Homo sapiens: one gene and its partners. The protein of the gene in region 1 purifies or fractionates together with the protein of each later gene. This does not show direct contact. Each region holds a gene or a part of one and is shown in the gene's direction. Other genes may lie near its edges.

Evidence for each region.
Region 2: the proteins of KCNJ12 (region 1) and DTNA purify together in Homo sapiens (affinity purification with mass spectrometry, with the first as the bait; one study listed by BioGRID). This does not show direct contact.
Region 3: the proteins of KCNJ12 (region 1) and DMD purify together in Homo sapiens (affinity purification with mass spectrometry, with the first as the bait; one study listed by BioGRID). This does not show direct contact.

The regions. Positions count from the first base shown.
Region 1 is NC_000017.11:21,414,215-21,417,377, forward strand, and holds part of KCNJ12 (ATP-sensitive inward rectifier potassium channel 12), read left to right. Parts: intron 1-1,072; 5' UTR 1,073-1,128; coding exon 1,129-2,430; 3' UTR 2,431-3,163. UniProt on the Homo sapiens protein: Inward rectifying potassium channel that probably participates in controlling the resting membrane potential in electrically excitable cells. Probably participates in establishing action potential waveform and excitability of neuronal and muscle tissues.
Region 2 is NC_000018.10:34,814,795-34,818,450, forward strand, and holds part of DTNA (dystrobrevin alpha), read left to right. Parts: intron 1-1,114; coding exon 1,115-1,220; intron 1,221-3,167; exon of another isoform or gene 3,168-3,369; coding exon 3,370-3,536; exon of another isoform or gene 3,537-3,656. UniProt on the Homo sapiens protein: May be involved in the formation and stability of synapses as well as being involved in the clustering of nicotinic acetylcholine receptors.
Region 3 is NC_000023.11:32,343,977-32,347,632, reverse strand, and holds part of DMD (dystrophin), read left to right. Parts: intron 1-1,552; coding exon 1,553-1,690; intron 1,691-3,656. UniProt on the Homo sapiens protein: Anchors the extracellular matrix to the cytoskeleton via F-actin. Ligand for dystroglycan.

The DNA.
Region 1 (3,163 bases):
CTGTAATCCCAGCACTTCAGGAGGCCGAGGCAGGTGGATCACCTGAGGTCAAGAGTTTGAGACCAGCCTGGCCAACATGGTGAAACCCCGTCTCTACTTAAAATACAAAAGTTAGCTGGATGTGGTGGCGGGCACCTATAATCCCAGCTGCTCAGGAAGCTGAGGCAGGAGAATCGCTTGAACCCAGGAGGCGGAGATGGCAGTGAGCTGAAATCGCACCATTGCATTCCAGCCTAGGTGACGAGAGGAAGATTCTGTCTAAAAAAGAAAAAAAGAAAGAAAAGAAAAAAAGAAAATGTGCTACCCTTAGGGAGTGGTGGTCTCAGGGTGGGGTTGATGGTTGAGTGCCCCTGGCTACGTTATTGTTATTGCTGCCGCCATTGTGCCCTTAGAAGGGGCAGTGCTGTGGATATAGCAGGGATGGGACATGGGTCTTCCTGGGGCACAAGGAGGCCTCTGGTGCCAAGGTGGCGAGGCAGTGGCAGGATGTCTTGCGGGAGGGTGTCCAGGGTGGGTTTGAGGGACAGCCTGGGGCCAGGGGCTGTGGCCGGAAGGGGAGTCCGCTGGAGGAGGCTGGGAGGTGAGGTCCGAGGGGTCAGGAGCTTCCCTGTGCAGGTCCTGCATGTCCTGGGGGGCCTCTGGCATTGAGCAGGGGAGGGATAGGCACCGACTCAGCTTCCACAGGCCCTCTGTGGCTGCCATGGAGACTGGGGGGCCATGGGCAGAGGCAGAGAGGCTGGCAAGTTGTGCCCCGAACTGGCTGGGCAGGCACTGTTAGATTCAGGCCTTGAGGGTGGGAGAAGGGGTCGGATCCTAAATAGACTCTTCAGAGCCCTCAGTGTGGGAGTGAGGTGTGGAGCTGAGGTTTTTGGCTGGAGCTGCTGGGGGCCCGAAGGGGGTGGCCATTCGCACTGGGAAGGCGGAGTGGGGAGCTGGCTTGGGCAAGACCAGAGCACGATCGTGGGTCAATCAGGGTGGAAGCGTCCTCCAGTCACGTCTGGGGGCCCTGGGATGGGGGTAGAGGAGCCCGGAGCCACCAGCCCAGCCAGACATGCTGTCGTCTCTGTTGCAGGAGCCGCCCTGCCTGGAGCTAGCCTGGGGGCGAGCCAGGGTCCCCCAACCCCCGGGATGACCGCGGCCAGCCGGGCCAACCCCTACAGCATCGTGTCATCGGAGGAGGACGGGCTGCACCTGGTCACCATGTCGGGCGCCAACGGCTTCGGCAACGGCAAGGTGCACACGCGGCGCAGGTGCCGCAACCGCTTCGTCAAGAAGAATGGCCAGTGCAACATTGAGTTCGCCAACATGGACGAGAAGTCACAGCGCTACCTGGCTGACATGTTCACCACCTGTGTGGACATCCGCTGGCGGTACATGCTGCTCATCTTCTCGCTGGCCTTCCTTGCCTCCTGGCTGCTGTTCGGCATCATCTTCTGGGTCATCGCGGTGGCACACGGTGACCTGGAGCCGGCTGAGGGCCGGGGCCGCACACCCTGTGTGATGCAGGTGCACGGCTTCATGGCGGCCTTCCTCTTCTCCATCGAGACGCAGACCACCATCGGCTACGGGCTGCGCTGTGTGACGGAGGAGTGCCCGGTGGCCGTCTTCATGGTGGTGGCCCAGTCCATCGTGGGCTGCATCATCGACTCCTTCATGATTGGTGCCATCATGGCCAAGATGGCAAGGCCCAAGAAGCGGGCACAGACGCTGCTGTTCAGCCACAACGCCGTGGTGGCCCTGCGTGACGGCAAGCTCTGCCTCATGTGGCGTGTGGGTAACCTGCGCAAGAGCCACATTGTGGAGGCCCATGTGCGCGCGCAGCTCATCAAGCCGCGGGTCACCGAGGAGGGCGAGTACATCCCGCTGGACCAGATCGACATCGATGTGGGCTTCGACAAGGGCCTGGACCGCATCTTTCTGGTGTCGCCCATCACCATCTTGCATGAGATTGACGAGGCCAGCCCGCTCTTCGGCATCAGCCGGCAGGACCTGGAGACGGACGACTTTGAGATCGTGGTCATCCTGGAAGGCATGGTGGAGGCCACAGCCATGACCACCCAGGCCCGCAGCTCCTACCTGGCCAATGAGATCCTGTGGGGTCACCGCTTTGAGCCCGTGCTCTTCGAGGAGAAGAACCAGTACAAGATTGACTACTCGCACTTCCACAAGACCTATGAGGTGCCCTCTACGCCCCGCTGCAGTGCGAAGGATCTGGTAGAGAACAAGTTCCTGCTGCCCAGCGCCAACTCCTTCTGCTACGAGAACGAGCTGGCCTTCCTGAGCCGTGACGAGGAGGATGAGGCGGACGGAGACCAGGACGGCCGAAGCCGGGACGGCCTCAGCCCCCAGGCCAGGCATGACTTTGACAGACTCCAGGCTGGCGGCGGGGTCCTGGAGCAGCGGCCCTACAGACGGGAGTCAGAGATCTGAGCCAACCTTGGCCGACATGCAGCATCCACCCCCGGCTGGGGAGAGGCCCCGCGGTCGCTCAGGGGCCCCGGGTTTGAGCAGAACGGGCCCAGTGCCCTGGGTTGCAGACTCAGTAGCGTTTTAGTCGTTTTATGTTTCTTTGCAACGGCCTCAGAAGTTTGGCCGGAGAGGGGGCAGCCAGAGCGGCAGCCCCCGGCCTCAGAGGCTATCACAGGCTCAGGGCAAAGAAGTGGCCTCCTGGGGGGCCAGGCCACGAGGGCCAGGGCTTCTGCCTGAAGATGGAGCTGCAGCCTGCGGGGAAGCAGCTCAGCTCGATGGTGGGCCCAGCCTCTGCTGTCCAAGGCTGGCTAGCTGCGGTGCTCCTTGCTGGTTTTTAACTTGGGGAGAAACACCGGGTTTCAGCTTTCTTGACCTTAGCTTGGGTGAGACTGTTTACAAAAAAAAAAAATTACCATGCAATTGAAAAAATTTTTTTTTAATTCACAGGGGGCAAAAAGAACAATTAGAATTCCATGGGTCTGCCAGGATGCAGCAGCTGGCTGAAGGCTCCAGAGGGTTCCCCGAGGTGGGACTGGCCTCTCCCCGTGTGTGTGGGCACCACAGTCCCTGGGCAAGCAGGGTGCTCTGGGACCGCACTTCATCGAGCTCACGAGCCAGCTAGGCTCTGTTTGTGATAGAAAAATCAAGACCATGTTAATGATCGTAATAAAAGCTTTCTACTGTCGTTGGGGTG
Region 2 (3,656 bases), on another chromosome or scaffold:
TATATGATTTATATATATCCTTAATGATAAGCAACTTATACATGTTGAAATCATAATAGCATTGTTGGAAACTTCCAGGAGTGCTTTTTAGCAAGTATGACAAATAGTCAAAATGAATAAGATCATTTCAAATATGAAAAGAGGTAACACAAAAATAATAAGACCAGTTTATTTTTGTACTTAATGAATTGGCTATTAACAGCTACTCAAGAGTCTGAGGTAGGTAGGAGGAGGTAGGAAGACAGCTTGAGACCAGGAGTTAGAGTCCAGCCTGGGCAACATAATGAGACCCCATCTTTCAAGCAAATAAATAAAATATTTTAAAAAATAAATAAATAAAATTATCCCATCCCCTTTGATATTCTAGTTCAAAATTTCAAGTAGTGATTTTTGCATATAAATATGTATTTTTTTATTTATACCATTACAGTACATGTATTAATATAGCTTTCTTACTTTTATCATTTTGAAAGAAACTTATAGATACAATGCATTCCTTTTGTACATCCAAAAGGACCTGGATAGTGAGAAAGAAGCAGACTGAATTGAGAGGAATTATATATAAAGTAATAAAAGGAGCAAATTTTTAAAAATGTAGATGGTTCTGTCCTAACAGGATTCCCTCCTGCTCTTGTATAACAGAACCATTCACATTAACCACTAAATATTTAGTACTTAAGGAAGTTGAGGAAGCTCAGAAGGGAAGTTGTTCTATAAATTTAGAAGACTGACTGACAGGAAAATTGTAGAGTGAGCTATGATGCGTTCTTGAGTAAAATTCCATGGAGAATTTCCATTCTTTATTTTGCTTCATTATTTTTATACTGTCTTTCATATATACAAATGATGCTCTTGGAATTGTTTTTCTCCTGGTGATACTATTGACTCAGCCTCAGTGGAGAGAATTCAGTCCTATGTCTGCTTAGGTATAAAAAGCAAACGATGTTTTCAGTTCTAAACTAGTTTAATAACACATTTGGCAAGTTCTGTTTCTTCAGATATTAGACATTTATTGAGTGCTCTTTTGTTTCAGTCTCAAATGATATGATATTTACATAGCAGGTAAATTGAGATGATTCTCTGTCCTAAATTTATGGGGGGTTTTTTTATGCAGAAAAAAGTCACGTTAAATGGTTTCTTGGACACGCTTATGTCAGATCCTCCCCCGCAGTGTCTGGTCTGGTTGCCTCTTCTGCATCGACTAGCAAATGTGGAAAATGGTGAGTAGTTACTAAGGAGCAAAGGTGATTTTTTAAATTATTGAAATTAGGCCATTAGTTCTACAGTTAGTAAGCCCAGGCTGTTGTTTTAGGGAAGCCTATTTAGTGGCTCTTAGTTTTGTTTAGGGTAGAACTAACCCATCTCCCTGTTCGGGAAGGCCTTAAAGGACCACTGAAAAATTAGGACTGTCAGTTCCAAAAATAAATCTCATGGTCTTCTTCTCAATTACAAGTCAGGTGTGGTTAAAAGACTTGGCACGATAGAAGGCGAACTTCAACAAGGAGTGTGACATTATTTTGTATTTGTTTTAGATCCGAATTTCTCATATTTGCATACACGGTACTGATTATTTCTTCCCAGGCACTCAGCCAGAAATAGGTGGGAGAAATGAGAAAAAAAAATAGATGATAGCACCCTGTTAATCTTTAGTCATATGTTCCAGATTGTGAGCTTTCAATAGTTGTACTTACGTTAAAGATAAGAGTAAAATAACTTTCGTATCATGTCTTTTTTTAAAGCAAGTATTTCTAGGATAAAAGGAACTACTGTTGGCATATCCAGATTTAAATATGAAATACCATTTGGGGCAAAATTTACAGAAAATTAAACATGGAGCAGTTCAGTGCCTCCATCTAATCTTTAGGTGTTCCTACTTATTGTTCAATGTAACTCTGAAATTTCTCCAGACTTGACGAGGAAATAATTTAGTCTCTATCTCTTACTGAGATTTAACTTAAGTCTCTATATATTACTCAACTTCTGTGTATTTCTTTAATATACATTGCAGCTAAAGTTAGCTTAATTTTAAATTATCATTCAGAATTTTTAGCATCTGCCCTTATTTATCTGTTAGTTAGAAGTTATGAATTTATCCTGTTTTTCTCATGGAGAAAATTTAAAGAATGAATTTATTTTATTTTTTTGCAATCACTAACAATCATAGTTTTTTTATGTTTATCCATATGCAGAAGCGAAGAGCAATCAAGGTCCATGTTATTATGCAAAATGAGTTCACGTTACTGTTTACAGTTCTAGAACTAGTCATTTTCCAATCATAAAGCTATAATTTCTTTCGTTCTCTCTCAGCATTTCCTGCTGCAGGAGATCAGTTTCTTAGGCACCATCCCAGAACAGTTGTCCCTAGATTGAAGTCCCACTCTAGTCTTTCTCAAGAGCCGGGAAGAAAGGTTATGACACTTGTTTAGAAGACAATGCGTCCAGAGCTAGTTATGTCTTTGTTTTTACACTTTGCTTTTTATCTTCATTTATTATTATTTTCATTGTTTTTCCTGACTGGTTAGGCCGGAGAATAGCTTTACCAAAGGCAAGAATTGTTATTGTTGTTTTAGTATCTAGCTCATAGCATGTAGACAATTACTTGGATTTGATCACTTAAATCTAATATTTTACTTTGCTTCAAATCTAGTATTTTGCTTTGCCTGCTTTATAATTCAAATTTCCTACCAAAGAAAGTTAACCGTCTCTTGAGGCATTTGAATTATTTAGAACTGTTTTCAGATAATTTGCACATCTTTTTTAGGGCCCTATACACCTGCCTCAGGAAAGAAAAAAAAATCTGTTTGTCAGATGTAGGCAACACCACTCGTTAAGTAAGCCATTAGTCACTCTATTTTTTAAAAAATAACTTAATTATCTCATCCACACCAGTTTTCCATTCTCTGCCCATCTTCCTTTCTTTTTTCTTCCTCTCATTCTCCGTGTCTCTGATATTCGCTCTCTTCCCACTGGACAATCAGCATTCACCCCTTGTGCTTCTGAGTCTTCCAGTGAGCTGTGCTGGTCTCCTGGAGACAGAGAGCAGTTTGGGGTAAAGGCAAGTCTGTTTGGCTAATTTAAATTCTTGTAATGTGAGAGATGGGAATAGAAAGAGCAAATGGCATTACAGAGATTTTTGTTGTTAAAAGGACACCTCTTCTCCATCCCATTTCATTTCATTTCCCCACAGGCATGATTGAAAAGGGTTGTAAGATTCCAGGAATGAACTAAATGTTTCTCTGAGCCCAAATCAACTATCATCTGAAATCGTGGTGCAGAGAAGAAAGGTGCAATTCCTGTAAGGCTGTATTTTTCCTTCTTCTGGTTCATACTTTTGTTTTCTTGGTTTTTCTTCACTTACTTCCCCCTTAGTCTTCCATCCGGTTGAGTGTTCCTACTGCCACAGTGAGAGTATGATGGGATTTCGCTACCGATGCCAACAGTGTCACAATTACCAGCTCTGTCAGGACTGCTTCTGGAGGGGACATGCCGGTGGTTCTCATAGCAACCAGCACCAAATGAAAGAGTACACGTCATGGGTAAGGCAAGGTCCAGGCAATACTTGGAGTTGGATGTGTGAGTGTTGCCCAGAGTTAAAGGGAATATCAAGGATGGTGGCAGAATTAAAGGGCAAACTTACCTTCCATCCCAGGTCTAGT
Region 3 (3,656 bases), on another chromosome or scaffold:
AAAGTGACATCAGAAGACAATATATAAATTTTAGGTAATAAGTGTGTGAAGCAATAGGAGAACTATTCCCACCAATCTTAGTTCCCACTTCCTGGAGCTGCCTCAATCAATACTCCCCATGTATGGGGTTTGGTGGCCTTGCCAACTCAGCTTGTGGAAAGACGGAAGAGGCTTTCCAAGTTGCTGAGTTACAGCAATCTCTACTTCAGGTCAAAGAAGAAACTAGAGGGCACCAAGATGAAAAAAAGTACTGATTACCTCTTGGGCTGACCCCAACTCTGCCCTAGAGCCCTCAACTGGTATAGGGAAAGAAGTGAAGTGGGTTTTTTAATTTTTTGTTGTTTTTGTCCTCAGCCCTAGAAAATGCTACAGACTTTTACAACACCTTTTAAAATAAGTAAAGTCTTTTACAGACTATAAGTATATGATGTGTCTATATTATGATAAGTATATAATGTGTCTATATTATGCCGTATGTTTCTTTAGATTATTGACCAGTCTCTGACAAAAATAATCCCTTTCCCCCATACAAAATGAATCAGTCCTCAGTTGCGTGTTGAAGTTTATGCATTATAGATTTAAATATATAACATCTAATTCCTTGAATTGTAATACACACATACAAATACTTGTGACTTTTGAAATTTATTATTTGTTTTCCTTATGTCATCAGTGTACCTTGAGTACCATTACAATGTGAGACTACTTGATACAAAGTTTTCACATTCTGAGTTGAAAGAAAGAAAACTAAAGGTGAAAAATCACATGGTCATATATGCGACTATATTAGACCAGCATTTATTCAAAACATTTTATTTCTAAGTAAAGAAAATTAAGATATTGTTCTTGCAGCCTAAAGGAACAAAATACCCATTGAAAATGTTTAAAGCCATTTTCCAGTCCATATTTTAGTATTATTTGATCGTATTTAAATTAACATGCATATATGACATATTTTAGAAATTATTTGATGGTAACTTAGCACATGATTTTTATTAATATCCTGATATTTCTCCTATTAATATTGAGCATTTAGGTTTCAGAAATGAAGCAGGAGTTATTAGATAGGAATTAGTGTACATTTAAATCAAAATATTTTCATGTAGTTGTGTGTTAATATTTTCAGATTTGCTGTTATCTCAGTCACAAATACACATCTGTATTCCTTTATGGATCAGTTAACATTATAAATGATAACTTTAGCTCATTTCTCTAATGTTTTAATTTCTAGAACTACACTAAAAAAGCCAAAAGAATACTTTCACAGTAATTCATGACTTGTCTGACATGATGAAGTACCACACTCCCCCATCTTTCTACAGGTGCCCCTAAAAATGTGTTCTTTACAACTAGATGGGAGGAAACTTATTTTGAAACCTCAAGTACCAAATGTAAAAGAAAGGCTATGAGCACAGTATCTTATAATAGCATTCCATGAAAGTTTTAAATTGGATTTTTGTGTGTGTTTAAATAACATGTCTTATTATCTCTGTTAACAATGTACAGCTTTTTAAAAACCAAAATGAAGACTGTACTTGTTGTTTTTGATCAGAATGAAGACAATGAGGGTACTGTAAAAGAATTGTTGCAAAGAGGAGACAACTTACAACAAAGAATCACAGATGAGAGAAAGCGAGAGGAAATAAAGATAAAACAGCAGCTGTTACAGACAAAACATAATGCTCTCAAGGTATTAGAGCTAAAATTATAATATACCTTGCCTGTGGTTTTTTTTTAATATATAGGGTAAAATATAATGTGCATTAATAAAATCTGCTTCAGACTTAGTCATCAGAAACTCACTTTTTCTGTTCAATGTGTATGCTTTATTTAACATTTTTGAGTGGTATTTGATTTTGAACGATGTGTTGCTTAAAAGTTATGGCTTTTTAAAGACATATTTTTCTAAGTAGTAATTGAAAGATGGGAATGCATTCATAGTACTTATACATTTAATTTTCTAATGTGCTTTATTTTTATCAGCTACTTTATATTGAAAAAAACCTGCCTAACTGCCAGAATAACCGATCTACATGTATCCATTATTCCTGCTTTCTTTACTTAATTGATTTTGCTTGCATTAGGTCCAATTTTTTGGTAACCTGATACTTGTTTAATAAGCCCTAGATTCTTTTATTTATTTTTAAAACTTTATTATGCCTTTAAGAAAGTCACTCTTTGCAACTATCTACAAAGTCAAATTTCATTTATGTAGGAATCCTAAAAAATAATCTTAGTGCCCTTGAATAAGAACTGCTACTTTCATATTAAGCAGTGTAGTGTATGGCTTCAAGTCCCCAGGTGACTCATCTGGTTTGTGCAGGAAGAGCAGGATAAACTTAATTTTTCTATAATAATATCTAGGAAGTTCTTGAGACTAGACATGTGGAAAGTTTTGTGAAACTTTTTTTTTGTATATGCTTTGCAATAATCACTATTTGCATGCATGGCTGATTTTCTAATACTTTTAATTGCTGAGCTTTTCCTTGTAAATCACTCTTTTGAGCTATGTAGTTATGAAGGTGGATCCACCTAGCAGGTAGATGGAGTCTGCTTTCTACATGCAAATAAGAGAATAAAACCTTTCCCCCTATAGTCAACCAAATAAACACTGCTGAGAATGTAATTACACAATATTGTGCCTGCAAGGAATCCACAAGGAAAGTCTAATTGGCCAGCAGGTGTTCTGAAGGTAACTGCTGATAAATATAGTAAACAGAAAAGGCCTCTTCCTCGAGGGAGTGCAAAAGCACACCATAATGTGTCTAGAAAATCGGAACGCTATGTAACTCACACCCTTCCAACTGTGAGCAAGCTTTCAGAAGTATCTACACTGGTCGTATGATGGTGTGTGTCCTACTGAATAGCAGTGTTTAATGGTCATCTGGCATTCCTCTAAAGAAATCTACATGACATCTCTAAATATTTTACATATTATACATCACTTTGTGCTTAGGAAATGAAAGATGTTTCAGATTGATGACCACCAAGCCCTTTCTCCTGGCAAAGATGTGAGTTATGTCACAAATAAGGCATGGCTCAACTCTAATTCACGTGGCTGTATCTTGCTACCTTTGAAAAAAGCAGCGTTCGATCTGACTCCTCAGAAGGTTTGAAAATTCAACATAAAACATAAAGTACAGCAAGGTTTAAATTCCCAATTTTAAACAAACTAGATAATGAAATGTAGTTCATTCTTGCAAATACAGGCTATAAGTGATTAATCAAAATCGTCAACACTACTCGCCAAACCAATCTATACCAACATATTCAATAACTTTTTAAACCTGTCAAATAGTTCCAATTCTGGTCCTTATGAAATATTTTAGAGAAGGTCAAAATTTTCCAATGGAATGAAATTTTTAGAAATTCCCTGATATTTATTATTTTTTCGCTCGAATTAAACCTGTGAATAAAACCCTAATTGCTACTTTCTGTAGAAATGAAAGCTGCATGCAGAGCTTATGTTCCCATGAATTATAAAATGGCATTTTGAGTAATTCTATTAATCACAGAAGATATTGAGTGTGCTTGTAAAGAGCATGATGACTGATTTCCTCCCATTGTTGATTTATTAAATTAGTCTTATCACATTGATTTGAAAGCATGCACTTGCTGTTTTCTTTTTTCAAATAGTTAATTGTTTTGCATTTAGA